4 separate regions of the Homo sapiens genome follow, and regions 2, 3 and 4 are each linked to region 1. The links come from fine-mapping of genetic effects on gene expression. A gene starts in region 1. Each other region holds a variant in brackets. All regions are shown on one strand. Distances are between the middles of the regions.

The links. PIP is the estimated chance that this variant, and not a neighbour inherited with it, causes the effect.
Region 2: its variant is fine-mapped to the expression of PRPSAP1 in cerebellum (GTEx, PIP above 0.99). The same link has a PIP of 0.9 or more in cerebellar hemisphere, cerebral cortex and prefrontal cortex.
Region 3: its variant is fine-mapped to the expression of PRPSAP1 in ovary (GTEx, PIP 0.94).
Region 4: its variant is fine-mapped to the expression of PRPSAP1 in whole blood (TOPMed, PIP 0.95).

Annotation. Positions count from the first base shown.
Region 1 is chr17:76,348,892-76,356,982 of GRCh38, forward strand. It overlaps PRPSAP1 (phosphoribosyl pyrophosphate synthetase associated protein 1), which reads right to left and starts at 5,025. Exons shown (of 10, transcript NM_002766.3): 1 at 4,643-5,025. The coding sequence starts at 4,812. RefSeq lists enhancers at 1,995-2,542, 4,082-4,141, 4,991-5,855, 5,102-5,371 and a silencer at 4,502-4,821.
Region 2 is chr17:76,308,959-76,317,058 of GRCh38, forward strand. It overlaps PRPSAP1 (phosphoribosyl pyrophosphate synthetase associated protein 1), which reads right to left. Exons shown (of 10, transcript NM_002766.3): 8 at 4,863-4,933; 9 at 3,912-4,058; 10 at 520-2,742. The coding sequence ends at 2,584. It also overlaps a transcript of QRICH2 not described here. Among named protein-coding and RNA genes, the nearest start is that of QRICH2, 4.7 kb to the left of the region's middle. The variant T/A (reference allele first, on the strand shown) is at 4,245.
Region 3 is chr17:75,974,221-75,982,320 of GRCh38, forward strand. ACOX1 (acyl-CoA oxidase 1) reads right to left here and starts at 4,946. Exons shown (of 14, transcript NM_004035.7): 1 at 4,745-4,946; 2 at 4,314-4,473. The coding sequence starts at 4,853. It overlaps TEN1 (TEN1 subunit of CST complex), which reads left to right and starts at 5,020. Exons shown (of 4, transcript NM_001113324.3): 1 at 5,020-5,291. It overlaps TEN1-CDK3 (TEN1-CDK3 readthrough (NMD candidate)), which reads left to right and starts at 4,997. Exons shown (of 10, transcript NR_037709.1): 1 at 4,997-5,291. RefSeq lists enhancers at 4,120-4,703, 4,609-4,838, 4,704-5,287, 5,409-5,508 and a silencer at 4,919-4,988. The variant A/G (reference allele first, on the strand shown) is at 3,992.
Region 4 is chr17:76,400,744-76,408,843 of GRCh38, forward strand. It overlaps UBE2O (ubiquitin conjugating enzyme E2 O), which reads right to left. Exons shown (of 18, transcript NM_022066.4): 2 at 4,770-4,829; 3 at 4,463-4,573; 4 at 1,859-1,956; 5 at 1,321-1,384; 6 at 268-411. Among named protein-coding and RNA genes, the nearest start is that of SPHK1, 20 kb to the left of the region's middle. The variant C/T (reference allele first, on the strand shown) is at 4,697.

The sequences.
Region 1 (8,091 bases):
AATAACACACACCAGAGATAAATGCCTCAATTATCAAAAGCATAGAGAAGGAAAGAGGCTTCAGCACTCTGACCAAATGTGGTGTGGATCTTGTTTGGATCCTAATTAGAATAAACCAAGTGTAAAAAGCCATTTTTGGCCAGGCGTGGTGGCTGATGCCTGTAATCCCAGCACTTTGGGAGGCCAAGGCGGGCGGATCACCTGAGGTCGGGAGTTTGAGACCAGCCTGACCAACATGGAGAAACCCCGTCTAAAATACAAAATCAGCTGGGCATGGTGGAGCATGCCTGTAATCTCAGCTACTAGGGAGGCTGAGGCAGGAGAATTGCTTGAACCCGGGAGGCGGAGGTTGTGGTGAGCCGAGATCGCGCCATTGCACTCCCGCCTGGGTAACAAGAGCAAAACTCCGTCTCAAAAAAAAAAAAAGCCATTTTAAAAAATAATCAGAGAAATATGGACAAAGACTAGATACTACATAATATTAAGGAATTAATAGTAGTGTGAGGTTTTAAGTCCTGATTAGTAAGCATTACTCTTTTTACAAGTGAAATGATATGATGTAAGATAATCTATTTAAAAATATTCCAGGCCGGGTGCGGTGGCTCACGTCTGCAATCCCAGCACTTTGGGAAGCTGAGGTGGGCGGATCACCTGAGGTCAGGAGTTCGAGACCAGCCTAACTAATATAATAAAACCCCATCTCTACTAAAAATACAAAAATTAGCTGGGTGTGGTGGCGAGCGTCTATAATCCCAGCTACTCAGGAGGCTGAGACAGGAGAATTGCCAGAATCCAGGAGGCAGAGGTTGCCGTGAGCCGAGATCACACCATCGCACTCCAGCCTCGGCAACAGGAGCGAAACTCCATCTCAAAAAATAATAATAAAAAAAATAAAATTAACATCTCCAGCCAGGCCAGGCGCAGTGGTTCATGCTTGTAATCTCAGCATTTTGGGAGGCCAAGGTGGGCAGAACACTTGAGGCCAGGAGTTCGAGACCCGCCTGGGCAACATGGAAAAACCCCATCTCTACTAAAAACACAAAAATTAGCTGGGTGTGGTGGTGGGCACCTGTAATCCCAGTTACTTGGGAGCTGAGGCACGAGAATCACTTGAACCTGGGAGGCGGGGGCTGCAGTGAGCCAAGATTGTGCCACTGCACTCCAGCCTGGGTGACTTTATCTCAAAAAAAAAAAACAACAAAACTCCAGCCAGGTATACACATACAATGGAATATTATTTGGCCTTAAAAAAAGAATAAATTCTGCAGCCAGGCGCAGTGGCTCATGCCTGTAATCCCAGCACTTTGGGAGGCCGAGGCGGGCGGATCACGAGGTCAGGAGATCGAGACCACCCTGGCTAACACGGTGAAACCCCATCTCTACTAAAAATACAAAAAATTAGCCGGGCGTGGTGGAGGGCGCCTGTAGTCCCAGCTACTCGGGAGGCTGAGGCAGGGGAATGGCGTGAACCCAGGGGGCGGAGCTTACAGTGAGCAGAGATCGTGCCACTGCACTCCAGCCTGTGCGACAGAGTGAGATTCCGTCTCAAAAAAAAAAAAAGAATAAATTCTGGTACGTGCTATGACATGAGGGAGCCTTGGACAAGGTATGCTGAGGAAAATAAGCCAGACACAGACAAACGCTATGATTCTATTTGTATGAAGTCCCAAGAATAGGCAATTCATAGAGACAAAGTAGAATGGAGGCTACCAGGGAATGGGGACTTAGTATTTAATGGGTACAGAGTTTCTGTTTGGGATGATGAAAAGTTCTGGAAATGAATAGTGGTGATGGTTGTGCAACACTGTGAATGTAGTTAAAGCCACTGAAGTGTACACTTAAAAATGGTTAAAAAGGTAGGCCAGGCACAGTGGCTCATGCCTGTAAAGGCGGCACTTCGGGAGGCCAAGGTAGGTGGATCACCTGAAGTTGGGAGTTTGAGACCAGCCTGACCAACATGGAGAAACCCCGTCTCTACTAAAAACACAAAATTAGCGGGGTGTGGTGGTGCAGCCTGTAATCCCAGCTACTTGGGAGGCTGAGGCAGGAGAATCACTTGAACTCGGGAGGCGGAGGTTGTGGGTGAGCCAAGATGGCTCTATTGCACTCCAGCCTGGGCAACAAGAGCAAAACTTCGTCTCAAAAACAAACAAACAAACAAAAAACGGTTAAAAAGGTAAACTTTATGTTATGTATATAACAATTTTTAAAAATACTCCAGGTGGGCCGGGCGCAGTAGCTCACGCCTATAATCCCAGATCGTCTGAGGTCAGGAGTTTGAGACCAGCCTGGCCAACGTGGTGAAACCCATCTCTACTAAAAATACAAAAACTAGCCAGGTGTGGCCGGGCGCGGTGGCTCACGCCTGTAATCCCAGCACTTTGGGAGGCCGAGGCGAGTGGATCACGAGGTCAGGAGATTGAGACCAACCTGGCTAACACAGTGAAACCCGTCTCTACTAAAAATACAAAAAATTAGCTGTGCGAGGTGGCGGGGGCCTGTAGTCCCAGCTACTCGGAAGGCTGAGGCAGGAGAATGGCGTGAACCCTGGGGGCGTAGCCTGCAGTGAGCCGAGATCGCGCCACTGCACTCCAGCCTGGGCGACAGCGAGACTCCGTCTCAAAACAAAAAACAAAAAACAAAAAACTAGCCAGGTGTGGTGTCGGGCATCTGTGATCCCAGCTACTTTCGAGGCTGAGGCAGGAGAATCGCTTGAACTTGGGACGTGGAGGTTGCAGTAAGCCGAGATGGCACCACTGCACTCCAGCCTGGGTGACACAAGACTGTCTCAAAATAAATAAAACAGATAAGATAAAACAAAATCTTACTGAGCGACAAGTAAAACAGGTAAGGGAAGTATTTATGAATATGTATCATTTATAGTAATTCAAAATCTTTCGGGAATTTGCCAGGAAAGAATCTAAAACAAACAAACAAAAAAAACCCTCACTGACTTTTAAAATGTGCCCTGCTCCCCTCTGCTCTCCCTCAAGGTCAGGTAGGGTAAATCTGAACCACTAGATACACACAGAAGCTTCGTTTAAAGTCAGTGTTTTCGTTGGCCTCAGAAAGAAAGACAAACAATCAGGGGTTAGAAATAGAAACTAGGTAGTAGACTGCAAAAGGATTGATTTGTTTTTTTAACATTCTTCCACTCTCCAAAACTCCAACTATTAAAAAAAAAAACAAGCAGAGCTGAAAAAAAAATGACTAAAGTTTTCCCTTTCTTCTACATTTCCCCCCAGAAGTTTAAGATATATCCCTGCAATCATTTGTCAACCCTAAAAAAGTAACGAAGTAACTCTATGAAAACTGTTTAAAATGTGAAAATGGCTTTAAATATTAAAAGACGAGCTATTCATTTTATGTCTTAGATTTCTAACAAGTGTATGTAGAAAGGGCATATAAGGCTCCTCCTTTATATCAGAGCTCTGGGATTCTCCAAAAGAGCCAACTAGAAAAGAGGCCATTTCACCGGGCGCGGTGGCTGAAGCCTGTAATCCCAGCACTTTGGGAGGCCGAGGCGGGCGGATCACGAGGTCAGAAGATCGAAACCATCCTGGCTAACACGGTGAAACCCAGTCTCTACTAAAAATACAAAAAATGAGCCGGGTGTGGTGGCGGGTGCCTGTAGTCCCAGCTACTTGGGAGGCTGGGGCAGGACAATGGCGTGAACCCGGGAGGCGGAGCTTGCAGTGAGCCGAGATCTCGCCACTGCACTCCAGCCTGGGTGACAGAGCGAGACTCCGTCTCAAAAAAAAAAAAAAAAAAAAAAAGAAAAGAAAAAGAAAAAGAAAAGAGGCCACTTAGTAAACAACTATTCAGAGGGCCACTATGAGCCCCTACTCTGCTAGAACCAGATACTACTTCTACATTATCCCGATCATACAATATTCTCAACCATGCCCATTTCACAGATGAGGTTCAGGGAAATCAAGTCTCTTGCCCACTGACACAGAGCTAGTAAGTGGCAAGGCTGGGAGGGCATCTCAGAGCTGTCAGACCCCAAAGGCGACTTAAGACCAGGGGCTTGGTTGGGTTAAAGACACAAATGACTGATCTTATCCCAAGCTGATTTACAAAGCAGGGTCAGGCCTGTCATTTCTACCACCAGCTCCGGCCCATCTGCCTCCCTGGAATTGCCTTCTTCGCACTGCCAGTCCCCACACCTTTGCTCTGCGACCGCACCTGCCGCGTCGGATCCCCCAACTCACAACCACGCCCGCGGGTCTCACTGCAGTGAGACTTGAGAGTGGCGGCGGTCAGATTCCCAGGTCAACTCCAGCCGTGGGAAAGGAAGCCAAGCCCTGAGCCCCTTTCCCCAAGACACGCACTCCGGGGCTCCAGAAAGCTCGGCCCGCCCCGGGGTGTGGGACTGCGGAGACGAAAGGCAGGCAGGCCGCGGACCCAGTCACGGGGCGGGGGGCTGAGGTCACCGAGAGTCCGCCCCAAGCCTCCCAGCTGCAAAACCGGGGAGCGGGGGGCGGTATCCGTCACCTCCAAGCTTTGTCCGGCTGGGAAGGCCCGCGCCTCCCGCCCCAGGTGCAGGAGGTGGGGCGGGTGGAGGGGAGCGGGTCCCTCCGGGCGCGAAGGAGAGCTAGGCGCCGCCGCCCCCGGCCCGGCCCTCCCACCGCCCCCTTACTCTGTGATGCGCTTGGCCAGCTCCGTGCAGGCGGCCGTGGAGTTGGCCGAGAAGACTCGGTAGCCGGTGCGAGCGGCGTTCATGGCCGGCGGGGGAACGGGGCGGGCGCGCGGGACGCGGAAAGCCGAGGACGCGGAGGGCGGGGGCAACAGCAGCAGCTTCTTGGGCATCGTCCGGCCCGCGGCGCGGTTACGACCGGCCCCGCGCGGGGCTGCACTCTGAGTGCTTCCGACTGCGAGACCCCGGTTTGGGTGGGGAAGGCGCTGAGAAACTCGGCGCAAGCGGGGAGAGCTCCGAGGTCCGTGCCCTTGCGCACCCCACACCACTGACTACAGCGGCCGAGCCTTCGCAGCGCCCGGCGCCGCCGCCTCAGAGCCAGAGGCAAGGCCACCGCCCCCTCCGGGCATCCGAAGAGCGTCGGCTAGAGCGCCCTCAGGCCGCCATCTCGGATGAGGGCAGGGAGCCTGGCGACTCTCTAAAAGCCTGTTCTTCCGAGGGGCATGTCACAGGTTCGCCCCGCCCCTGCTTTGACCGCTTCCACGGGAGCTCTTTCGGTCTCACTTTCTTGGGAGGAGCAGCCTACCTCGGTAGTGGCCCCAGGTGTTTCCAACTTTTTGGCCAGGACCCAACATGTCCGCCTCCGAGGAGGTATACGATCTAGCTCTGCATGTCTATGGTAGCACAGCGCCCGCCCCACGAGGCGCGTGCGCCGGCCGGAGATTAATTTGAAAAGTAGAGGGCGGGGGTTCTTTCCAGCTGGTTGACCGCAGTACTGAAGCGGCCAAAAAGTGGTCTTCTCCTGAGCCTGATCTTTCAGGCGTTTCCGAACAGATCCCCAACCCTGTGTCTGCGTGTAAGGCAAGGTTCCCTGAACGTGCCAAAGGCCCTCTTGCCGGTATTCGCTTTCAATCAAAAAAGCCCTCCTTCTCCTCTTTCCATATGCGCCACCCCTCCGAGACCCACTCGCGATGCGTCTGTTCCACAGTCTTTCTGGTGACCTCAACCACAGTAAGCCGCCCGGCCCGCGGGACTGTGCCACACGTAGATGCTTGCATTTTTTAAATTTTTGTTGTTGTTGTTATTGTTTTGATGCTTGCATATTTATGTACCTTTGCAAACATCTATTTTCCTAACTAGGATGTAACCCATTTTACGGCCACATCGTGAGTTCCTTTTTTTTTTTTTTAATTTTATTATTATTTATTTATTTTTTGAAATAGGGTCTCCCTCTGCCGCCCAGGCTGGAGTGCAGTGGCGCGATCACGGCTCACTGCAGCCTCTACCTCCCGGGCTCAAGCCATCCTCCTACCTCAGTCATTCAAAATGCCGACATTACAGGCCTCAGCCATCACGCCCCGCCAAGATCGTGTATTCCTGAGTGCTCCGTGTTACCCAGTGTATAGGGCAGTGTGTGGGCTCCAGAGGCCCGCAATCAGTACTTGTTGAAGTAGAAAGTAAAGCCCAGGGAAGCATTTGAGATCTCTAGTTATCAGCTGCACCAGAACTCGAGGGGAGGAGAGGTGCCTCTCACATTGACAGTACCATCTTCTGAGAATGTCCTTTAGAGACTCTGCTTGTGGTGACATTGGGCTTGAGGGAGCAGTAGATTGTGACTCAGCATGTCGTGAAGGACCACAAGTCTGAAGCTACAGGATTTGGAAGTTGAGCTGCCCTGAGCCTGCAGCAGCCTGGCCCCTATTCCAATAGCTCTCTAGAAAAAAAAAAAAAAAAAAAAAGGACAGTGGGTGCACAGCCTAGGCCAAATTATTTAACCACTGCACACATGTCCAGCTCACAGACCCTGACAAAAACCTTGTTACCTTCTTAAAAAAAAGGGGGAATGGGATAGGTGCAGTAGCTCATGCCTGTAATCCCAGCACTTTGGGAGGCCGAGGCGGATGATAGTTTGAGGTCAGGAGTTCAAGACCAGCCTGGGCAACATGGCGAAACCCAATCTGTACTAAAAATACAAAAATTAGCCAGGTGTTGGCTGAGCGTGGTGGCTCACTCCTTTAATCCCAGCACTTTGGGAGGCTGAGGTGGGTGGATCACCTGAGGTCAGGAGTTTGAGACAAGCCTGGCCAAGGTGGCAAAACACTGTCTCTACTAAAAATGCAAAAATTAGGCTGGGCACGGTGGCTCATGCCTGTAATCCCAGCACTTTGGGAGGCTATGGTGGGTGGATCACGAGGTCAGGAATTCGATACCAGCCTGGCCAACATGGTGAAACCCTGTCTCTACTAATAATACAAAAAATTAGCCAGATGTGGCCGGGCGCGGTGGCTCACGCCTGTAATCCCAGCACTTTGAGAGGCTGAGGCGGGCGGATCACAAGGTCAGGAGATCGAGACCATCCTGGCTAACACGGTGAAACCCCATCTCTACTAAAAATACAAAAAATTAGCCGGGCGCAGTGGCGGGCGCCTGTAGTCCCAGCTACTCGGGAGGCTGAGGCAGGAGAATGGCGTGAACCCGGGAGGCGGAGCTTGCAGTGAGCTGACATTGTGCCACTGAACTCCAGCCTGGACGACCGGGCGAGGGCGCGACTCTGTCTCAAAAAAAAAAAAAAAAAATCAGCCAGATGTGGTGGCGCGGTGGCACACACCTGTAATCCCACCTACTCAAGAGGCTGAGGCAGGAGAACCGCTTGAGCTCGGGAGGCGGAGGTTGCAGTGAGCTGAGATCAGGCCACTGCACTCCATCCTGGGCAACACAGCAAGACTCCATCTCTCTCTCATACACACACACACACACACACACACACACACACACACAATTAGCCAGGTGTGGTGGCAGGCAACTGTAATCCCAGTTACTTGGGAGGCTAAGGCAGGAGAATCGCTTGAACCTGGGAGGCGGAGGTTGTAGTGAGCCGAGATTGTGCCAGCCTGGGCAACAGAGTGAGACCTCCTCTCAAAAAAAAAAAAAAAAAAAAAAAACAGGTTGGGCACGGTGGCTCACGCCTGCAATCCCAGCACTTTGGGTGGCCGAGGTGGGCAGATCACGAGGTCAGGAGATTGAGACCATCCTGGTCAACATGCTTAAACCCCATCTCTACTAAAAATACAAAAATTAGCCGGGGGTGGTGGCGCGCCTGTGGTCCCAGCTACTCGGGAGGCTGGGGCAGGAGAATCACTTGAACCCAGGAGGTGGAGATTTCAGTGAGCCAAGATCAAGCCACTGCACTCCAGCCTGGCAACAGAGCGAGACTCCATCTCAAAAAAAAAAAATTAGCCAGATGTGGTGGCACATGCCTGTAGTCCCTTCTACTCCGGAGGCTGAGGCAGAAGAATCACTTGAATCCAGGAGGCAGAGGTTGCAGTGAGCCGAGATCGTGCCACTGCACTCTAGCCTGGGCAACAGAGTGAGTCTCTGTCTCAATAACAACAATAAAAAGTTAATCAGCCTATAGCCCCAGCTACTTGGGAGGATGAGGCAGGAGGATCCCT
Region 2 (8,100 bases), 40 kb before region 1:
CTGGTCTTGAACTCCCGACCTCAAGTGATCGACCCACCTCGGCCTCCCAAAGTGCTGGGATTACAGGTGTAAGCCACCGCGCCCAGCCTGCCATAAATTAATTGATCTCAAAAAAACGGCCAGGCTTGGTGGCTCACACCTGTAATCCCAGCACTTTGGGAGGCCGAGGCGGGTGGATCACCTGAGGTAAGGGGTTCAAGGCCAGCCTAGCCAACATAGTGAAACCCCTCTGCTAAAAATACAAAAAATTAGCCGGGCATGGTACCGCGCATCTGTAATCCCAGCTACTCGGGAGGCTGAGGCAGGAGAATCGCGTCAACCCGGGAGGCAGAGGTTGCAGTGAGCCAAGATCGCACCACTGCACCCCAGCCTGGGCGACAGTGCAAGACTCTGTCTCAAAAAAAAAAAAAAAGAAAAGAAAAGAAACCACTCACCTGGTCAAGCGCCTGTGCTTGAGCTCATTACAAAGCAGGATTAAACAGCACGAGACAAATCTGGTGTTAACAATTGAGACATGACTTCCCCATACAAGATTCTTCCCAAAAACGTATAAATAAAACTTCCTAACAGAAGCACAGCAAGGCTACTTAAAGAGAACCTATGAATGTGTGCCATGCATGGCCAGCCTCCTCCGTGAGCTCTGCATCTGCAGATTTAACCAACCACGACTGAACACGTACAGATTCCTGTCATGATTCTCTAAATAATACAGCATGACCACCATCTACACAGGATATTGCAGTAGGTATTACAAGTCATCCAGGATGTGCATAGCTTATATGCAGATACTACACCATTTTCTATCAGGGACTTGCACATCCATGGGCAGGAGGTTGAGTCCTGGAACCAATCACCCATGGATTGTAAGGAATAACTGTACTATTTTAACTACTGTTCAAGTTCAGATTTTTCACTTCAGCCTGAGAGGTACTGTTTATTTAATTGAAGGATTTTCGATCATCATTATATTCCAATAACTTGGGACACAGTAGGCCTTTAAGGGGTTATCAAAATAACTAGTTCTTTGCAGTCTTTTTTTTTTTTTGAGATGGAATCTTGCTCTGTCACTTGGGCTGGAGTGCAGTGGCACAATCTCAGCTCACTGCAATCTCTGCCTCTTGGGTTCAACCAATTAATTCTCCTGCCTCAGCCTCCCGAGTAGCTGGGATTACAGGCGTGCACCCCCTCCCCCAACACCCGGCTAATTTTTGTATTTTTAGTAGGGACAGGGTTTCACCATATTGGCCAGGCTGGTCTCAAACTCCTGACCTCAAGTGATCTGCCCACCTCGGCCTCCCAAAGTGCTGGGATTACAGGCGTGAGCCATGATGCCTGGCCTCTTTGTAGTCTTTTTATGCTTTTAACTTAGCTAGGCTAATTTTTGTATTTTTAGTAGAGACGGGGTTTTGCCATGTTGGCCAGGCTGGTCTCAAACTCCTGACCTCAGGTGATCTACCTGCCTCGGCCTCCCAAAGTGCAGGGATTACAGGCATAAGACACGATCCCTGGCCTGTTTTTTTTTTTTGAGACAGGGTGTTGCTCTGTCACCCAGGATGGATGGCAGTGGTACAATCATAGTTCACTGCAGCTTCAACCTCCTTGGCTCAGGCAATCCTCCCACCTCAGCCTCCCAAGGTAGCTGGAACTACAGGCACATGCTACCAATGCCTGGCTAATTTTTGTATTTTTTGTAGACATGGGGGTTTCGCCATGTTTCCCAGGCTGGTCTGAAACTCCTGGGCTCAAGCAATCCTCCTTGCCTCAGCCTCCCAAAGTACTCAGATTATAGGTGTGAGCCACCACACCTAGACTTTTTTTTTTTTTTTTTAAAGATTTAAAATACAGTATTCAACAAGGATTTAGCTTCAACACTTAGGAAGAGGGTGGAACCTGGGAAAGTGTTTGTGTCCAGCCACAGACCTGACTGCTGTTCTGTATCCATGGTCTTCTGCTGTCTAATGAAAAGACTAGCAAGACAACAAATTATTTTATTTGCAACTTCAGAGCCACTCAGATACCCAGAGGTGGGATGCTATTTTCTAATCTGACATCCTTGGAAGATGTAACAACATGAATGCTTCATTTTTCAATGGCTGTAGGCATAACAATTTCTGAAAGAAAAATACGATTCTCTATAAAAGACTTGAAGTTGATTTGGGAGAGGCCAACTGGATAGTAATAGGGCCACAGGCGCTCAGCTTCCCTAACCAGGTTCAACATCAATACCTCCATTTCCCTGGAGCTGAAACAACTAAATGAACATTATAGAGTTAAGACTTTATGTGCCTTTAACTCCTCTTTAGTATCAATAAGATTTTCAGATTATTTTTAAGAAAGCAGCTAGAACTTTTAAGGAACAGGGCTGATGACAGCAGACATGTAAGGCCATGTTATGATATTTATCCATTAGCTCTGTCTTCTTCCTGACTCTTTTAATCCCTCCTCCCCATCAATCCGGGCAAAAGAAGATATCTAACTCCAGGCTGTTTCGAGTCCTCCCTTGCAAGGAAACACTGTATCACTCATGGCACTGCTTTTTCCATGTTTCCCTCAGGAGGTCCAGGGTCGAGACCCTCGTGAAAGCTAGTCATCCACAGTGATGTTTCGGAAAAGGTAGGCCATGGACTCTCCATTGTGGATTCTCCGAATGGCTTCAGAAAGAATCAAACTGATATCCACAGTCTTTATCTTGGGACATTGCAGCTTCTGAACCTCATGAGGGACAGTATTCGTCACCACCACCTAGTCACACAGTGATGGAAAACAAACGCTGTTACTGAAGTCTGTTCTCCAAGCTGGTTACACAGAAAAGCTTATCTAACATTGAGTTCCCACAGCCTAAGTTCCAAACTACAAAACCTTGTTCCACCGAGTATAGTTTTTATAAACCAAAATTAACTAATTTTATGCAAAGGAAAAGTTACATGGCCTCAGAACACAAGACAAAAATCTTAGGAATGGCATGGTCTCCATGCAGAAACACAGTGAGCCCCAGTGCTATGCAAAACTCTCAGATCATAAGGGAAGAATTCCAGCCTCAAGAGAAATGCTCCTAGGGTGTCAAATTAAAGTACCCAAGCAAACCGTTATGCAAATAGACATATACAGACCCTCAACATAACTCTCAACTTATGACAGGGTTATGTCTGGATAAACGCATCATTATAAGTTGAAAATATTTTAAGTAGAAAATGCATTTAGGCCGGGCACAGTGGCTCATGCTTGTAATCCTAGCACTTTGGGAGGCCGAGGCAGGTGGATCACCTGAGGTCAGGAGTTTGAGACCAGCCTGGCCAACATGGTGAAACCCCGTTTCTAAGAAAAACACAAAAATTAGGCCTGGTGGCCGGCGCGTGTAATCCCAGTTACTTGGGAGACTGAGACAGGAGAATCGTTTGAACCCGGGAGGCAGAGGTTGCAGTGAGCCGAGATTGCCACACTGCACTCCCAGCCTAGGCAACAGAGCAAGATTCCATCTCAAAAAAAAAAAAAAGCATTTAATACGCCTAACCTACTAAACATCATTAACTTGGCCTAGCCCTACCTTAAACATGCCCAGAACAGTTACATTAGACTGCAGGTGGCAAAATCATCTAGGGCAAAGGCTTTCATTTTATAATAAAAGCGATTATTTTAAAATAAAGTGTCTCAAGTAATTTATCGAATACTATACATTACATCGTAATTGCAATGGTTTTGCATCATCATAAAGTCAAAAACTTCTAAGTTGAACCATGGTAAGTCGTGGACTATCTGTATTCCTAAACATGTATCTGTCCCAACGAACTGCTAGCCAGCAAAAGCTAGAAAAGCTATAGACAGATTAAGCAATTTAGTATTGACTGAATCATTTTATTATTCCCAGAAAACACAGCAGTAAATCTTGGCTCAAGATTTAGAAGCAGCCTGACCTCGTCTACGGAGGACTCCTCAATCAGGCGAGGGGCCTCTGCAGACAGGATGCCGTGGGTGGCCATAACATAGATCTTATAGGCGCCTCTCTCTTTCAGGATCTCCGCGGCAGCAACAAAACTCTCCACATCGTCAATAATGTCATCCTGGGAGGAGAACAGAGTGAGTTGGTAGGAAAGAAACACCCTCTAGCCCATACTGTCAATGCACACACCACTCTACTCTCTTCTGCACTCAGTTTCAGAGGATTTCTGATGGAAAATCAGAGCTGTGTGCCTGGGTCAAAGAACGAGCATCCAGAAATGGCAACAGAAGCACCTGACAGTACCTTG[T/A]GTGTCTGTCAGAGGCGGGCGCAGTCAAGCACCTGTGACATTACGGCTGGAGCTGAGGATTGCCAACACTCATTTTCCTGTCTCACGTTTCTGGTGAATCCCACATAGCCAGCGTTCCATTTATTTTTTTTTCAAATAGACTGTGACATGAGAAGAAAACTGAAATAAAGTGTGCTACTGCAAAGGACTCATGACCCACTAGCCAGCAGATATTTAGAGCTGGGAAAAAAAGTATGTCAACATGCAGAACGAGTCTGCACGGGGACACCCATTCTTACTTGTGAAAACGGAACAGCTCATCTTCAGTTCATCTTTCGGCCCTAACGCTCAAGCATGATTAGGTGAGCTGGTTTAAAGAACCTAGAATCCACATGATGAAGGTGAAGGTGCTGAATTTTCTCACGGGAGTACTGTGCTCATTTCCTATCTGTAGGTTATACTTTAATGTATGTTCACCTGGATACAGGTTTCTGCCACTTGGCACAAGGGAGTTTGGGTGAGAAAGGATACATGGATCCATTCGGATCATCGTTCCTAGAAATACAGTCCCAGAGTGGACAACCTACTGACCAAGAGCCAGGAGTGCCACCTCTGCACATGGATGACATATAACCATACCACGATGATTGCGATGCGGCCTCCAACATCTCCAACTACAGTTATCGGTGGCTTCTCTTTGGCCATCATCACTAGCAAAACAAAACAAATTACAAGATCTCAGTCATTCATGTATCACTAGAGAAATGTAATCACAACCTAATTCCCTGGAAATGGTGGCAAAACCACTATACAGACAAAAAACAAACAAACCATGCAAATTCCCCCTCAATGAACCTGCAATCTCTCAGAAACAGCAGCATTGGCCAAAAGAAATAGAAGGCATGCCATACATGTTACTTTGAATTTTCTAGTAGCCACATTAAAAACAGATGAAATTAATACATTTTATTTTATGCAATTCCCAAAATATTATAATTTCAACATGTAACTGATATAAAAATGTATGTATGTATGTATGTATGTATGTATTTTTTGAGACGGAGTTTTGCTCTTGTTGCCCAGGCTGGAGTGCAATGACGCGATCTTGGCTCACTGCAACCTCCGCCTCCCAGGTTCAAGCAATTCTGCCTCAGCCTCCCGAGTAGCTGGGATTATAGGCATGCGCCACCACACCCAGCTGAGTTTTGTATTTTTAGTAGAGATGGGGTTTCTCCACGTTGGTCAGGCTGGTCTCGAACTCCTGACCTCAGGTGATCCACCCGCCTCAGCCTCCCAAAGTGCTGGGATTACAAGCTTGAGCCACCACGCCCAACCTGATATAAAAATTAATGAGATGTTTTACACTTTTTTTTCTCAGAGGGGATCTTGCTATGTTGCCCCGGCTCATTTCAAACTGGAAGCAAACAATCCTCCTACCTCAGCCTCCCAAAGTGCTAGGATTATAGGCATGAGCCACCGCACCCAGCCTTACACTTTTTTCCTATCAAGTCTTCTCTACTTGGTGTGTGTTTTATACGCACAGCACTTCTCAGTTGAGACGGGCCGTGTCTCATGAGCTCAGCAGCCAGCACATTGCACTGCACAGCACAGCTGGAAAGACAACGAACCAGCAGAGCATGGAAGATTCTGCCAACACGGAGAAGCTGCACCGCAGTGCTGTGTGGATAGAAACCCCACTCTCACAGAGACTGACAGAGACATGCAGAAGGAATGCCGCTCTGCAGAAAGCGAAACAGCGAAAGGCTGCCAGATCATGAGATGGCTTTATGTTATTTTCTTCCAAAGTCACCTTATTTGGACAGTGTAACCTTACTATCAGATAACTGCACTACTGACATAATCAGAGTTTCCTCAAAATCAGGAACTTGAAGACAATAACTCCAGGCCCATCATCTTTTCCTGATTTAATTGGTGCTTAAAGTAGAGACTTTTATCTGACTGCAAAATCTGCATCTGAAGAAAGGCTATGAGTGTACAAAGGAAACTACAGGATAAAGAAAGGAAATAAGATTTTATCCTCAAAAGGAGGTTAGTAAACAGAGAAGAAAAACAAAGACTACTTCAGAAGAACAGGCTAAGTATTCTTTCTTTAAACTTTGTTATTATTCTGAAATATTTATTAGGCTAGTAGTGGGGGAAGCGAAAGAGAATAAAATTCAGGGTAACAAGAGTTTAGTGACTACCAACAAACAATTTTTGCAGATTCCCAACAGGCACTGTGTATCTCAAAGAACAGGTGTTTTTCTCTGTATACTGGCAAATCAGTTGAGCTGAAATTCACCACTACTTTATACATTTCAACAAACATATATTTCCTGATTTCACATCCTAGAAACAAAGACAACTTCTTGAATTTGGGCAAGACAAGAAGGCTTTGCATATAAAATCACTTAAAATGGGGGGAGGGGGGTTTCAAACCACCAACATTAGGAGCAGCTTCCTGAGATTCTGTTTTTAAATTAAACCATGTAAACACGCAGTTATGTTGACCTATCCGCTTTTTTTTTTTTTTTTTTTTTTTTTTTTTCTTGAGACAGAGTCTCACTCTGTCTCCCAGGCTGGAGTGCAGTGGCACGATCTCGGCTCACTGCAACCTCTGCCTCCTGGGCTCAAGCGATTCTCCTGCTTCAGCCTCCTAAGTAGCTGGGATTACAGGCACGTGCCACCACATCTGGCTAATTTTTTGTATTTTTAGCAGAGGTGGGGTTTCACCACGTTGGCCAGGCCACCTTTGAGAGGCCAAGGCAGGCGGATCACCTGAGGTCAGGAGTTCAAGACCAGCCTGGCCAACATGGTGAAACTCTGTCTCTACTAAAAATATAAAAATTAGCCAGGCATGGTGGCACACGCCTGTAATCCTAGCTACTCAGGAGACTGAAACAAGACTTGCTTGAACCCAGGAGGCAAAGGTTGCAGTGAATTGAGATCGCACCACTGCACACCAGCCTGGGCAACAGAGTGAGACTCCGTCTAAAAAAAAAAAAAAAAAGAAAAAAAAAAAGAAAGATTGCAAGCCAATACCTCTCATCAAATATCAATGGAAATTCAGCTCTAGTTTGATGCGGAAAACATCACAGTATATTTGTTTACTTTTTTGCAACCCTACCTCCCACAAAGAACTACTGTTAGTTTCGCATGAAAAACCTAGGCTCTGCTAGGAGGGAGGCTAAAAAAGGCTAAAATGAAAGCCTTTCTGCCCAATATACTCATTCCCTGCTGATACTGCCTTTAGGTTCTGAATAAAAGTGAACACATAATCTGGTGGCTGCCACAAAACAGAGACAGACTTTATTATTACAGGGTAGAAAAAAATGACTAGTACCTCACAGGCCAACAGTTTTTGAATAGCTTACCCAAAAAATAAAACACTAAAAATTCCAGTTTTCATACAAGGTCAAGAATAGAGTGCTAAAACTACCCTAAGTTTAGATTCTGCTCTCTCTTTCCATTTTATCAAACAAAATCTAATCCATGAATAAAATGAATTGTGCAACATTACTTGCGGCCAGAAATCACTGTGAAAACTACATCAGCTGCAGTGAAAATGTTTCCAATTCATCAAACGATTTCCAATGCTCTTATGAAGGATGTAGGAAGTTGTCTTTTGCTTTTAAAGGTAGCCTTTTCCAAGTAAAATAAAGCTGCACTGACAACCCTCCTTACCTTACGCACGCTTCCATCACAAGTACAAGCACCTGCACACATGTGCACACATTTACTCTTTCCTGGGAGCCAATTAACCAAACCTTCCTCTGCTAAAGTAAACAGCAAAAAAGAACTATGAGAAAATTCATTCCTTACCCATTTTGACCTTTGTCTATTTCTAGTTCAATGAAATGTCAAACCATATCAACAA
Region 3 (8,100 bases), 370 kb before region 1:
TATAGCGCTGTTAACAAGAGCTCCAAGGAAGAAATAATTTCAACTATGTTTCCCTAGATAATATAAGCAAATATCCAAAAGAGTAAATACATATTCCAGGGCAGAATCATACATCGCTAAAGGTCTTCAGGGTTTACAATAAGTAATGTGGGCATGTAAAAATTTATCCCCAATGGTCAATGAACATTACTACGGATTAACTCTACATCACATTGAAATTTAGTCCTCAACTCTCTTCTTACAAAACAGAATCCACAGTAGTTGGCCTTGGCTGTGCTGTGTCATAGATTTTATAGGGATCAATTTTGTACTTTGACAAAGCTCGTATCTAAAAAGTTTAAAGTACAAAATACATCTCATCTAACTGATCTTCACGACTTCTCAACACATGATTAGGAAGCAATGTTACTACCAGTTTATCCTAACCTGTGCAATGAGCAGAGCATGAACTAAAGGACAGAAGGGATAGGCTGCCATTGCAGTGCTGGGGGACCCTGAAACCAAACTACCACCTTAAAAGAAATAATAGTAGCCGGGCGCGGTGGCTCACGCCTGTAATCCCAGCACGTTGGGAGGCCAAGGCGGGTGGATCACGAGGTCAGGAGATCGAGACCATCAGATCGAGACCATCCTGGCTAACATGGTGAAACCCCGTCTCTACGAAAAATACAAAAAAAAAATTAGCCGGGTGTGGTGGTGGGCTCCTGTAGTCCCAGCTACTCAGGAGGCTGAGGCGGGAGAATGGCGTGAACCCGGGAGGCGGAGCTTGTAGTGAGCCGAGATCGCACCACTGCACTCCAGCCTGGGCGACAGAGCGAGACTCTGTCTCCAAAAAAAAAAAAAAAAAAAAAAAGAAAGAAAGAAAGAAATAATAGTAAACACAATATACCCTTATTTTTCTATTTCCTAAATAAGTACTACACGGTTATCCCCGCCATTTCTTTTTTTTTCTTTTTTGGAGACAGTCTCCCTCTGTTGCCCAGGCTGGAGTACAGTGGTGTGATCCCAGCTCACGGCAACCTCTGCCTCCTAGGTTCAAGTGATTCTCATGCCTCAGCCTCCCAAGTAGCTGGGATTATAGGCGTGTGCCACCAAGCCCGGTTAATTTTGTATTTTAGTAGAGAAGGCGTTTTGCCATGTTGGCCAGGCTGGTCATGAAGTGGCCTGGCCTCAAGTGATCTGCCCACCTCAGCCACCCAAAGTGCTGGGATTACAGGCGTGAGCCACCATGCCCCAGTCCCATTGTCTTTTCTATCTTACATAAATCATAATCCACTTAGAAACAAAAAACTCTCAACATGGATGCTCTTAGATACGAATATTTCTAATTAATCAAAATGAATTAATGTAATCATTATAGATTCCACCAGAGGGAACGACTTCTGCGTCCTAATCATGTGTTTAGAAGCTGCTCATTAACATCAGTTAAAAATGTTTTCTCAGCCAGGCGCAGTGGCTTATGCCTGTAATCCCAGCATTTTGGGAGGAAGGGGCGGGTGGATCACAAGGCCAGGAGTTCGAGACCAGCCTGGCCAACATGGTGAAACCCCATTTCTACTAAAAATACAAAAGTTAGCTGGGTGAGGTGGCAGATGCCTCTTCACCTGCTGATAATGGAAATAAATGGAAATGCAGAGAGAGAGAGAGAGAGAGAAAGAAAGAGAGAGAAAGAAAAAGAAAGAGGAAGAGAAAGAGAAAGAAAAAGAAAGGAAAAGAAAGAAAAGAAAAGAAAGAAAGAAAGAAAAGAAAAGAAAGAAAGGTGATGTATTTCACAATTAATAGCATGTCACGGTTAACTGGCAGCATTCTTTCTTTCTTAGTGGTACACAAAACACTGGTGTGAGTTATAATCGATGAGATTATATAACCGAGGCTTTAACTCGATAGCATGCGATAATTTCCAGGACTCATTTACAAACCCCTTCTCTTACTTAAAAACTGATCTCCTTGTCATATCCTAAGGACATTGGAAGTGTGTCAAAGGGTGTGTTAAAGTTTGTACTTTAATACTTCACATGAAAAATGATACACAAAACAACTTCCCGGTGTCCATGAATCTTTAACCCGCATAAAAGACTTTGTTCTATTTCATTGTGACCTCACTCGAGTCTGGTTCACATTATCAACAGGTCACAGGTTATGAAATCATCTCTATCAGCTTTGAAATGCACTGCACCACCCATTCAAACACACACACACACACTCAACCCACTTTTTTCCTGACGTTTCAAGAAGGAATAAAATCTTACTAATTTTTTCAAATTTACAAACACAACACAGGTATCAGTAACATAATCTTCTAGGAGGAGTTACTCTATCTCAATATCCCCACAGCCATGAGTTACAAACTTCAAAAACAAAACAGACCATTTGGAAGTATGCTGATTTGAACTACCAAAAATAAATAAACAAAATTTTTTCGTTTAAAACTGAGTGGAGCTCTGAGGAAAGTCCAAAGTGCCAGAGTAAACCATTTCATCTTCACAAAAATAACCCAAGTCAAGCTGAAAATCGATACCAAAGGCACTAGAGGCAGTGACCATTATTACCATAAAGGCAGAACGTGCAACATGTTCTATTTAGCTTGGTTCTAGTCTATACACCACTCATACGATTTAGTCTTTACCGATGAAAATACTGGAGTTCCTTTAAAATGGAGAAACCTAAAAGAGAAAATGCCCAGGAATAAATGAGAAAAAAATGCTATAGGCCAAAATAATCTTGTACTAGGATCATGTAATAGTGTTTGTTTAGGTTAAGGCAAAAAAGTCTTTTTTTTTTTTTTTTTTTTTTTTGAGACAGAGTCTCTCTTTGTTGCCCAGTCTGGAGTGCAGTGGCGTGATCTCGGCTCAGTGCAGCCTTTGCCTCCCAGGTTCAAGGGATTCTCCTGCCTCAGCCTCCTGAATAGCTGGGACCCCAGAAGCGCACCACCAGGCCCGGCTAATTTTTGTATTTTTAGTAGAGAGAGTTTCACCATTTTGGCCAGGCTGGTCTCGAGCTCCTGGCCTCAAGTGATCCACCTGCCTTGGCTTCCCAAAGTGCTGAGATTACAGGCATGAGCCACTGTGCCCGGCCCGAAGTCCTTATTTTTATTTATTTTTACCGTTCCTTGTGGAGCAGGGTGGATCACGAGGTGAGGAGTTTGAGACCAGCCTGGCAACATGGCGAAACCCCATCTCTACTAAAAATACAAAAATTAGCCGGGTGTGGTGGCGGGCGCCTGTAATCCCAGCTACTCAGGAGGCTGAAGCAGGAGAATCGCTTGAATCCGGGAGGTGGAGGCTGGAGTGAGCCGAGATCGTGCCACTGCACTGCAGCCTGGGCGACAGAGCGAGACTCCGTCTCAAAAAACAAAAACAAAAACAAAAAACACAACAAAACACATGGTCTGAAAAAAGGATATACTCTCTTCCACACTAGAACCAAGGCAGGTTTTTATGACGTCTCTCTCATATGCACAAGACAACCATTCAAGCACTGTCATGGATTCAGAACTACTGGGTTCTTAGACTTTCTATTCATTCAGAGGCGTCACAGATCATTCTTCATCCAGGTCCACACTACCATATAATATAATCTGCTATTGCTCCAAAATATTTAAATGGTCGTGCAACTAAAAAAAAAAATGCTCCCAGATTCAGAATTTTAGCAGTCCTCCTTACAAAGAGCAAAATGATTCTGCATTTAAATCAGTCAAATTTGAGTTGCTTGGGCAGAACAATGCTTTTACAACATCCTTGAAACTGTACTCTTGAGAACAAAAACTCCTGCATTTCCATTTATTATCAGCATTCTACAAACACGTCATCCCACGAAAAGGCTTGGATACAAAAGTGATCACATTATTTTTCACACATATAACTTTATTTATTTATTTATTTATTTATTTTTTGAGATGGAGTCTCGCACTCTTGCCCAGGCTGGAGTGCAGTGGCGCGATCTCGGCTCACTGCAAGCTCCGCCTCCCTAGTTCACGCTATTCTCCTGCCTC[A/G]GCCTCCCGAGTAGCTGGAACTACAGGCGCCCGCCACCACGCCCGGCTAATTTTTGTATTTTCAGTAGAGATGGGGTTTCACCGTGTTAGCCAGAATGGTCTCGATCTCCTGACTTGGTGATCCGCCCGCCTCGGCCTCCCAAAGTGCTGGGATTACAGGCGTGAGCCACCGCGCCCGGCCACACATATAACTTTATAAAGTTGCATGAAAATATGCCAGTTTGCATCTTCAAACACCAAGCACGGTGATGAAAGGCCACCATAGACCGCAGCTGTAAAGTTTAGGCTTAACAACACTTGCTCTGTTCTAAGGCATACCTACTTTTTAAACCACATAATTTCATCAGGGTCAGCGATGCCAAACTCCCTCATCTTCTTCACCATGATGGCACTTTTCCTGACAGCCACCTCATAACGCTGGCTGCGAGTGAGGAAGTTCAAGTCCTCATGCTGGAAGTCTGGGTCGTTCAGGATCATGTTCTCTGAAAGGGGGTTAAAGGGCATTAAAAGGCAGACAGACACTCGGGCCTCCGTTCCACCCTCCCTGAATCACAATAGGCTTCAGAGTCGCGGACACACCTGGGGAATGGCGATATCCCCCCACCAGGGACACAGGCTGTTCCTCGAAGTGGGGGTCCCGGCTCCCCTAACGCTGGGCCAGAGGGCCTAGGCCCCACAGCGCCCCTGACTCCGCATCGAGGGAGTCTCCAGCTTTTCTCGGGAAAGGAGGGAGGTCTCGCCCGCCGCCCTCACCGATCTCTCGGCGGCGCCGGGTTTTCTCGGGGCTGCCGTCCAGGATGTGTGTAAGCAGCTCCGGGTTGAAGCTGGCGGAATCCCGCTCCCTGCGCAGGTCCGGGTTCATGGCGACGACCAGCTGGCAGCGAAGTAAGCACCGACCGAGGTGGCAGTGACAATCTAAATCCGCAGCTCCAGCGCCGGCCGGACCCTAGGAGGCAGCCTCAGGACGGCGCAAGTCCCCGCCTCCGCTCGCCCGGCCCGCCCCGGCCCGCCCCTTCTTTCTCCGTGGCCCTTTGGCGCGTGAGTGACAGCGGCCCAGACAGAGGGGGCGATGTCCGCGTCGTGGCTGGGGCCGGTCGCGGGGCAGACTAATCCCCTGCTCCTGGCCAGGGGAGGCTCCCGAGCGGATCCTCGGGAAAGGGGCTCCGAAGGTCAAGAAACTGCCCTGCTGGGCGTCCGGGGAGTGGGAAAATAAAGCACTTTTTGTATCCCGCCCCTCCCCCGTCACGTGACCACGCGAGGCGGAAAGAAGAAATCCGAGGACCGGCGACGCCTAGAACAGGTTGGCTGGGGCCTTGGGAAGGGGGCGGGACAACGAGGCTGAGGAGGGATTGCGCCTGCACTTGCCCCCCTCTTACCCCGCGGCCTCTGTCACGCTTCCGGGTCCGTGCCCCTAGGCCTCTCCGAAATGAGAGTGGTCGGGAGACTCTGGAGTCTGGGGCGGGAGATGGGGCTTTGCGGAATTGCTAGGGAGGGTCACTTGGGCTTTTGCCAAATCCACCCGGATTGGAGAAGAATGGGACGGGAACCAGTCTCTTTGGGGAGAGGCTCCAGTTACCTTTTGTTAAGATAATGGCGTCTTTACTGGCAGAGGCGTGGGTTCCGGGGCCCTGGGTGTGGGATTGTGAGCGCTGTTCAAGGGGTGGACGGGGACTTAGAATGAGACCAAGCGGGCGGTGCTGCTCTAAGCCTTCTGTCTGGGAAACCAGACATTTTCCCCCGCAACCTGGCAGTTACTAGAGGTCTTGGAATCCAGACTTCTTTGCTTTCGCCATCACCGTCATCAAAGTGGGAAATGCACACTTACTGTTAAAACCTAGTGTAGGGCCGGGCGCGGTGGCTCACGCCTGGAATCCCAGCACTTTGGGAGGACGAGGCGGGCGTATCACTTGAGCCCAGGAGTTCAAGACCAGCCTGGGCAACATGGCAAAACCCCATCCCTACAAAAAATACCAAAAAATTAGCTGGGTGTAGTGGCATGCGCCTGTAGTCCCAGCTACTCTGAAGGCTGAGATGGGATGGTGGCTTGAGCCCCGGAGGTGGAGGTTGCGGTGAGCCAAGATTGTGACATTGCACTCCATCCTGGGCAACATAGTGAGACCCTGTCTCTACAGAAAAAAAACAAAAAACAAAAACAGTTCTGCCCAGTGGGATTGTAGACAAGGGAGATTCAGGGATTTGTTGAATCATCTCTAGTCATTTTTTTTTTTTTTCTTGAGACGGAGTCTCGCTCTGTCGCCCAGGCTGCAGTGTGGTGGTATGATCTCAGCTCATTGCAACCTCCACCCCCTGGGTTCAAGCGATTCTCCTATCTCAGCCTCCCGAGTAGCTGGGATTATAGGGGCTCGCCACCACACCCAGCTAATTGTATTTTTAGTAGAGACAGGATTTTGCCATGTTGGCCAGGCTGGTCTCGAATTCCTGACCTGTTGATCCACCTGCCTCGGCCTCCCAAAGCGCCGGGATTACAGGCGTGAGCCGCTGCGCCTAGCCTGTCTGTAGTCTGTGTAATACTATGACTTTGGTTTTCTCAGAAGTAAAACTACGAGAGATGCATAACATTCATAATTTGAATAATAGAACTATAATACACACTCTTAACCCCTAGGACCTCAGGATCCTCATTTGTCTTATTAAGCTGCTGATCTCAGGCCCCTTCAACAGCAGAGAGGGTGTCTAGTTTATTCTCTGTACCTGGCACAGTGCCTGCCCCGCTAAAGGTGCTCAGGAAATCTTTGTGGAGTGAACAAATGGCTGCTTGACAGCTGACCTTCTAGTTCTAATATTCTAGGAAACCAATTGCTCTTAATGTAACAATGATAAGGGGTGTACTTAGCATTGAATAGAAAAGACTTAGATGAAGAGCTAAATTTGCTGAGTTTTTATTTTGAAATAATTTCAAATTTACACGAGAATTACAAGAATAGAACAAAGAACTTTTCTTCTGTGACTTTAACGCTTTTTTTTTTTCTTTTGAGATGATGTCTTCCTCTGTCACCCAGGCTGGAGTGCAGTTGCATGATTTCAGCTCACTGCAACCTCCGCCTCCTGGGTTCAAATGATTCTCATGCCTCAGCCTCCAGAGTAGCTGGGACTACAGGAATGTACTACCACACTTGGCTAATTTTTGTGTCTTTATTAGAGGCAGGGTTTCACTATGTTGACCAGGCTGGTCTCCAACTCCTGGCCTCATGTGATCCGCTCGCCTCAGCCTTCCAAAGTGCTGAGATTACAGGCGTGAGCCACTGCGCCTGGCTGGCTGACATTAACACTTTTGAAGTGTATAAGCCCATTGTTTTGTAGTGTTGGGTCTCAGAAAACAATACCCCAAAATGAAGGCCTCAGAAGCAACCCACAAAGCAAGTTGTTTTTTTTTTTTTTTTTACCTTCTGTCCTCCTCTCCCTCAGGTGCATTCTCCCCCGAGCCTAGCCAGAGAAGTTAGAATCCTCTTCCCCAAGGCAGGTCATAGAAAACAGAGTCATTTACCCCCAAAGCCAGCCATAAAACCCTAAATATAAGCTGGGTGCGGTGGCTCACGCCTATAATCCTGGCACTTTGGGAGGCCAAGGCAGGTGGATAGCGAGGTCAGGAGATCGAGACCATCCTGGCTAACACGGTGAAACCCCGTCTCTACTAAAAATACAAAAAAAGCCGAGCGAGGTGCCATGTGCCTGTAGTCCCGGCTACTCGGGAGTCTGAGGCAGGAGAATCGCTTGAACCGGGGAGGCAGAGGTTGCAGTGAGCCGAGATTGCACCACTGCATTCCAGCCTGGGCGACAGAGTGAGACTCTGTCTCAAAAAACAAACAAAAAAAACCCTAAATATATTACTCTTAACTTTCCCTCCTTCTTTTGGTGTAAAAACTGGCCAAAAAGAAATTATCTGACCTAGCTTGTTTGACTGTAGGCCATAAGACTCCATTCCAGAGAGGGTCCTCCCCCACACCCAGAAGGAAGGAATGCCTGTTCCAAGAGGCCAAGAAGAATCTAGACAGACAGGCCTTGCTGGGCCTCCCCACTCAGTCTATCAGCATTAGATCATACCTTTTATGTTCAATCATTTGCATAAAAATGTACAATTTCCCCTGTAT
Region 4 (8,100 bases), 52 kb after region 1:
TCATACCAGCCAGGGGCCACTGGAACTGCCACTTGCCACCCTCCCACCTTGCTCAGCCTGTACAGGCTGGGCTGGGGCACATCTGTCTTTTGGTCACTATGACCAGAGCCTGGGTTCCCTTTATCCCCAAAGCCCTTTGAGATCAACAGGGTCCAGATGCTGAGGAGCGGGGCTCAACCCTCAAGAGCAGGAAGGAAAGGGGCAGCAGCTCAGCTCCAGGGTGTGGAGGTCAAGGACTCCATCTCCTACCCTTGGGCCCGGACCCACCTCTTCCACCACCACTCGGAACTTGCTCTTGGTGCTGAGCACGGGCTTGACACCTGACAGCCACTGGACGCTGGAGAAGATCTTGGCAGGGCCAATGAGCACCTGGCCTGGGTAGAAGCCATAGGAATCATCGAAGAAGAGACCCTGCGGGATGTGGGGCCAAAGGAAAGTCCCCGTGAGCGGTGTCTCCATGGGTGACCATGCTCTCCACGCCTGTGCCCGCTGGCTGCCCACCTGCAGAAGCCCACTCACACACACGCCCCACACGCCCTAAAACAAGTCCTGTGGCTCCACATCAGCACTTCCCAAACCCTGGGTCCGCAGAGGTCATCTGGCGCCCTTGTTCAAACATAGGTGATGCATTCCATGCTCCTTGGTCAAGGGCTCATACTCTGAGGAATAAGACTCCAGAGAGCAGTGGTCCTGAAACCTGTTTGCTCACGCACCCCCTGTATATCTACTTGTTTGCTGTGTGTGTCCATGTACTATTGTAACTAACACATCATCCTGTACTGAGAGAGACAAAGTGGAACCTTAAAGGATGAGAAAAAAAAGCTACCAAAAATGCAAATAAAAGTTCTAATACTGCCGGGCGCGGTGGCTCACGCCTGTAATCCCAGCACTTTGGGAGGCTGTGGGCAGATCACCCGAGGTCAAGAGTTCGAGACCAGCCTGGCCAACATGGTGAAACCTCATCTCCACTAAAAATACAAAAATTAGACGGGTGTGGTGGCACACGCCTGTAATCCCAGCTACTCGGGAGGCTGAGGCCAAAGAATCACTTGAACCCGGGAGGTGGAGGTTGCAGTGAGCCGAGATCGCACCGTTGCACTCCAGCCTGGGCGACAGTGAGACTCTGTCTCAAAAAAAAAAAAAAAAAAAAAAGTTCTAATACTTTCTGCCTATACCCAAACTTTTAGACCCTCTGGCGCGCACCCGCCCCTTTTCTAGGAAACCGCTCTGTTTAGCTGGGTCCAGGTCTTTGCTACGAAGTCCTCCTTCCAGAGGACTGAGCAATCAGAGAAGGGTGCTGGCCTGGATGGAGCACACTACCGAGTCGCTGACGTGCGGGCAGACGTCGTAGAGCTTGGCGCCATCTTCCGTGTTCATGGAGCACCTAAAACAGAGAACAGAGGTTTGGTCTCCACCAGGGGACACAGTGAGTACCAAAAAGTTGCGATTCTGAGATGCCAATGCGCCCACATGCCCTAAATAGCACAATTCGTCTTCTACCATCAACTCAGCCCGAGGTAGTACAAGAAACTCTCCCACAACGAACAAGACCCCAAGTGCCACTGGAGTGCTTGCTCAGCACCATCACAGTGCCTCAAGTAAAGCATCAGCCTCTAGCAGATATCCTCAGTGAAAACGTTTCTCCCCATGCCAGGACAGATCAGAAACTGAGCAACAGAAATAGGCCACGGCAGATAAGGAGAACGGTACAGGGTTAGGCCCTGGATGCCTGCAACATCTGTCACTGCCCTTGATCAAACCTGTCATCACTGTCCCCAGGAGGAAACACCCTCCTCCTCCCCTCTTTCCAAGAGGCTATCCTTCCCAAGCCGATGGCTCTCTGGTGGTGAGACTCTACCTGGCGCCGTTGGATAGCTTCAGGATGATCTGGTTCTTCAAGTCGTAGACCTTCCCCAGCCAGCAGTCATAGGCAATGTAGTCCCCATACATGAAGGGCTGCAGACCAAGGAGGCAGGGGCAGTGAGACACAGCAGACAACGTTCATGTCCAGGGCACAGATTCCTCTATGCCCCACCGAAGACAGGATGGGGGAGGATCTAGACAGCTCACTGACTGGACCGGTTGGCTACTAGCCCTAAACAGCTGCTGCAGCAGGCCCTCCCTACAAGTTCTAGGCTGCATCCCAGCTGCTCTTCCCAGTGAGGAGGAAGTGGTGGTGGTGGTGGGGCTGCCTGGAGGGAACGGGGTGGGTGATGCAGGGGCAGAGAGGCCTGATGGCATCCATGGACATGGGACATCCATGGACACAGGACACCTGGCAAAGTAGGCTGTGGAGGTGGCAGGCAGAGGAGGCAGCCACACCACTGGGGGGTGGCTACATGGACAGTGCTCTGAGTAAATACGTTAACACATCAAGGATATCGAGAGCCAAGTCCCTCATTGTTGGAGAAGGTGCCCAGGTGTTTACTAACAGAAAGGGAGCAGGAAGGAGAAGAAGGAAGAGGAGTCTGAGGTGTTTAGGTGGAAGTGGATCTATCAGGATGAACTCATATATTTTATTTTACTTTATTATTATTTTTTTTAGAGACAGGGTCTTGCTCTATTGCCCAGGCTGGAGTGCAATGGTGTGATCTTGGCTTAATGCAACCTCCATCTTTGGGCTCAAGCGACTCTCCCACCTCAGTCTTCTGAGTAGCTGGGACTACAGGCATGCATCACCGTGCCTGGCCAATTTTTTCATATATTTTGGTTGAGATGGGGTTTCGCCATGTTGCCCAAGCTGGTCTTAAACTCTTGAGCTCAAGTGATCCATCTGCCTCAGCCTCTCAAAGTGTTGGGATTACAGGGGTGAGCCACTGCGCCCGTGAACTCTGCCTGAACTCATATATTTTAATATACACATAGAGCAGGTAGTGACATATTTAGATGTGTGTATACATATAATACATATGTATTTCCTAGTGTGTCCCAAAAGAGCCAAGTAGCAATTAGCACACCTAGCATCCAGATCTTGGGTTTTAAAAATACCATTCTCTGAAAACAATGAGGCTTCTTGGAGAAATGGTTGATTCTGGGGCTGGATCACAAAAAGTACAAGATGAGCCTGGCACATCTCATGCCAGAAAGAAAGAAAGTTCTTAAAAAACCAACAAAAAGGGCCATGTGAGAAGGACATGAAAGCCAGCTTGAAGGGGTTCCCACTGGCTAAATCTGGGACCATCCAAGCAACAGAACAGATAATAGTAGTAATTAATTATAACCAATGAATAAAACAGAAATCTCTAAGTCCATACTGATAAAAAAAAAGAATACATAAATAGGGCAGAAGATAAAGCTCTTCTACAGAGCAGAATGCCAGCTAAAAGAAATGAGGGGAACAAGGGAGTCATAGAACCACCATTTAGCAACATCAGAGCAATGGCTGGCGCAGGGGGAACTGTGAATGGAGGCCAAAGCTGGTGGATTTCAGTTTGACAAATGACAGGTTATAGACATAATCTGGGACTACGTTCCCACAAAATACAATCACTTAAAGGGGGTAAATGGTGAGTTTATGGTGGAGAGACCTGGTGGACACCAACATGACCAGGGGTAAAAGTGAACAACCCCAGCACTTTGGCTATGGGGTACCATGAACCAGGGCAGAGCTCTGCGGCGGGCCTGCCAAGAACACGTGGGCATGAGGCAACACCAGGAAGACCCAGGCTGAGGGTCAAATTACTGAATGTATCACTGTTCAGGGCATGGAAGACAAAGAAAGGCTGGGAAGCGATTCCAGATTGGAGAGAAAATGAAGAGATGACAACTCAATGCAAGATGTGTTCCTGAATTGGGTCCTGGATCCGCAAAGAAGAAAAGAGTAGTGTTGGGACAACTGCATGTGGTCTGTGGACTGGACAGTAATTATCAACGTTGATTTCCCAATCTGGGGGTTATATGGTGGTTGCACAGGAGGCTGTCCTCATTTTTGGAAAACACACAAGAGGTGTGTGTATTCCGGGGTGGGTGACAGGGCATCACATCTATAGCTTGCTGTCAAATGTTTTGGGAAGAAAAAAGACCGGAGGGGGATCTCGGGGAAAAGGAGGGAGGGAAGGTGATGGAGCAAACGAAGTGAAATCTTAACAGCTGAGGAACCTGGATGGAGGGACACAGGAATTTACAACTTTTGGTAAGTTTGAAATCATTAAAAAAATAAACTATTTCCAATAATTTATTTTTTTAAAGAAATGTTAGAGGAGAAAGGAAAAACACTTAAAGATAACCACACTGGCAGCCTATGCTGGGGTTGGGGAAGGGCACGTCCTGACCTCATGTCTAAATGGCTTACTTGAAAGCAGCGAAAACAAGGCTACAGGAGCCAGCTGGCTGCTGTGCTCCGCCTTCTGACCCAGGAAGGCTGTGCTTGGCAAGAGCACGGAGGAGGCTGTAGCCCAGAGGTCGTGCCGCCGAGAGAACCAGAGGGCCCAGAAAGGATGATGAGAAGACAGGGCCGGCTCACCCAGATGTGCTGCAGGTCCTTGCTGTTGACGGGATAGATGATGCAGTTGGTGCCGATGAGCTTGACGGCACAGTCGATGTTGACGTCGATCACCGTGCCACACTGACTGTCCTGGGGGAGGGAGGAGACATGCAAGTCCCGTGGTGCAGCAGCCCTGGTCACCAGGGGAGACCCAGCCCAGGCAACCCCAGCGCACCCCCTGCAGAGCTGGCCAGTTCTCCCACATGCAGAGTG[C/T]GAGGTGGGCAGGCTCAAGTCCCTAAGGTGGCTGCCCCCAGGCCCGGGGCTGGGGTGGGGACGCAGGACTCACGGTGGATCGCATGTGCCGGACCACATCTCGGGGCACCACAGAACGGTCCTCTAGTTTCAGCTGTAAAAGAAAATACAGGTGTGAGAGAATGGACTCTGAAGCCACCACAGAATACAGTTTTCTTCCAGCTTCTGAAGGAAAGCGTCACATCCACACTGCTAAGTGCACAAATCCTAAGCGTTTGGCTAGCAGTATCTTCACAGACCGCACACACCTCCGACCAGCACCCAGACCCACAGGCAGAGCGCGTCACGCCCACAGGCCTCCTGGGGCCCCTGTGGTCACTGTCTCACCCACCAGAGGCACTTGGCTTGCCGGAGGTAGCCTTCCTCACACTGAACAGTGCAGCTCAATGACAGATCACATAAGGCTGCACTTTAATGAAGGATTTAACAGCCCATTCTACAGAGAGCAAAACATTTGCTTTGCGTTCAATCTTTTTTCTGCCCTCTGCAAGTGCCTGCCCTAGCTGATCAGTGCTGAGGGAGAGTGGGCTGGGGGAGAAGCAGGACACTGGGCTGCGGTGGGTCACCCTGAAGCCTGGCTATCACCGGACACCATGTTCTAATCTGGGTTATCCTCCTGACCAGCTGCGGCCTGCACCTTATCTGCTGCGCTTGGAGCCCTGCAGGCTGCTAAGTAACCCTCAGGATGGTTGGCTCTTGGAGCCCGGCCAACTGCACGAGCACCTGATTGTCTCTTTACGCACAGCTGGCAGCGGCCACTGCCTCCTGCTGCTCCATCGCCCAAAAGCCCAGGCACGTGATGCTCCCACCAGGCCAGCCTGCGTCTTTTTTAGCTGGTTCCTCAAACCTGGGGCAGCTCCTCTATGGTTCTTCACTGGGTCATAATCATGGATGGGTCTCTGTGTGTGTCCACCTCCGAGACCCCAAACCACATGGCTGGAGAGCTGTTTCCTCAAATAGCCAACCAGACACTCCTCCGTGGTGGCCTCTCTTGACCTGGGGGCACTGAGAGGTCACCACCAAGAAAGGAGAACTGAGTCGCCGAAAAAGGAAGATACTGGCTCAAGGTCACTTAAATGCTGGCAATGACAACTAAAACAAACTCTGCTAGTAGAAGAACGTGACTCACAAAAAAAAAAAGGAAAGAAAAGCAATGAACCCCACCACCAACCAGCAGTGCAGAGAGTCCCATGGGAACTCATGAGCCCAAGTTGTTTTTTTTTTTTTTTTTTTTTTTTTGAGATGGAGTCTCGCTGTGTTGCCCAAACTGGAGTGCAATGGCGCAGTCTCGGCTCGCTGCAACCTTCGCCTCCCAGGTTCAAGCAATTCTCCCGTCTCAGCCTCCCGAGTAGGTGGGACTGCAGGCACGTGCCACCACGCCCGGCTAATTTTTGTATTTTTAGTAGAGATGGGGCTTCACCATGTTGGCCAGGCTGGTCTCGAACTCCTGACCTCGTGATCTGCCCACCTCAGCCTCCCAAAGTGCTGGGATTACAGGCGTGAGCCACTGCATCCAGGTATGAGCCTGTTTCAAATGACAACTTGCCCAGTCCTTAAACGCAGGGTTCTTGAGTCAGACACAGGAACGTCAGGCAAACCACTCCTGCCGACATGTGGAAGGAGAGATGATGGCAGCTGTCTCAGCATGGCTGAGGTGGAGTCACCAAGGCAGCGGACCGCAGGTGGCACATGGTGCACGGTACAGAGTAGGTGCTCAGCAAGGTCGGCAGCTGTGATCACTGGCCCTGTGAGCTGCAGGGTGAAGACCCCTGAAAGGTCAGGCTCTCCTTATCTCTGCTCCAAGACCCCAGGAGGCTGGAGAGGCATGCTGGCGTGACGGTGCCACTTTTCTAAATCAAAGAATATTCTGTGCCTGTAACCCTCTGTGCCCAAATCTCCACTCTGAGATACGGCATTTTTTTGTGCTGCCCCACCCTATCTTAATCCCCTGCTCCCATTTTAGACTTCAAAAAGCCACAATTGCTCCCAGAGAAGCCAGAAGCGGCAGGACAGGAGAATCCAATGCAAGGGGGGCTGCACCATGTGTGGCAGGAGGGCTGCCTCCACCACTTGGGGGTCCCTGAGAGAGCAGCCAGGAAAGGAGGAGAGAAGAACGCAGACACAGACCTAAATCAGTGCCGTCACTGATGAAACACCCTGTTCAGCCTAACAGCACCCTTGGGAGTGCAGGGGAAACCGAGGTGTCAACTCTGAGGCTGAAGCAGAAAAAAACAGCTGGTGAAAGCTGGCATCATGGCAAGGCCAGAGGCTGGCAGGGCAGGCAGTGCCCAGTGCTCCCAGGAGAGGGAGGCTGGCAGCAAATGCCATTCTTCCCGTGGGGTCTCCAGACAACAGCAGCTCCACCTCACCAGGATGCTGCCTCCAGGGGCTCTTCTGACCTTTCTATGACAAGGAGTTACATTTCTCCAAAGACCTGATGGTGCTGGGAGCAGAGTGGGAGCGACAAGGGGCTGGGGGATGGTAACATGGTGGCTACACTCCCTTCCACTGGGAATTAGAACCCAAGACAACGGCATGTGGAAGGACTTAGGATGACTTGGGAGGCTCTTGTGACTTTCCTTCCTAACTTCCTATACCCCACCCATACTGGGCACTGGCTTTCTCCAAATAAGCCCATACCCTCCCATCTGTGAGCCACTCCACTGAACAGTTACTTCCAAATGTCCTCCTCTCCCTGCCCCCGTATGCACAACCTGCTTCACAAAGCCTTTCAGTGCCCCCGTCAGGAAGGAACCGACGTGCTCCTGGCGAATGCAAGAGCTCTGGAGTTTTTCGCCTCATGCTAACCAGGTGCTTCCTACCTGGCAGACAGTTCTCCAAGCGTTTCACTGTCTTCGCCCATGAGGTGCTCCACAACCCATGAAGCACATCACTGCCATGCTCATTTTGCAGATACGCAAACTGAGACCAAGAGAAAATAAGCAACTCATTCAATGTCACAAGTAGTGGAGCTGGGACCTGAACGCAGGCAGTTTGGCTCCAGAGTCCATTCTCTTAACCAAATAAAAAGCTCATCTCTCCCCAGAGCTACAGAGACAGGGAAAGACTTCTGGCAGGTCTACACATTTAAAGACAGTGATTCTTCTGCTTATGAAAGAAAGAAAAACTCTCTTCATTTCTGAGGCAAGTGGAAGGCAGCAATGGTGGCCACTGACTGCGGATGCCTGCTAGGCACAGTTTGCCCTCCACTTCCCCTTCTACCTCCAAAGAGCAAATGACAGGTGCCAGCCGGCCTGGCAGGTGAACACTAGAGGGCACTGTGCCCACTCTGGGAAAGCACCAGATTTGTGAACAAAACTAAACCTTGGAATAAACCCAATCCCTACTGTTAAGGGGTGCCCTGC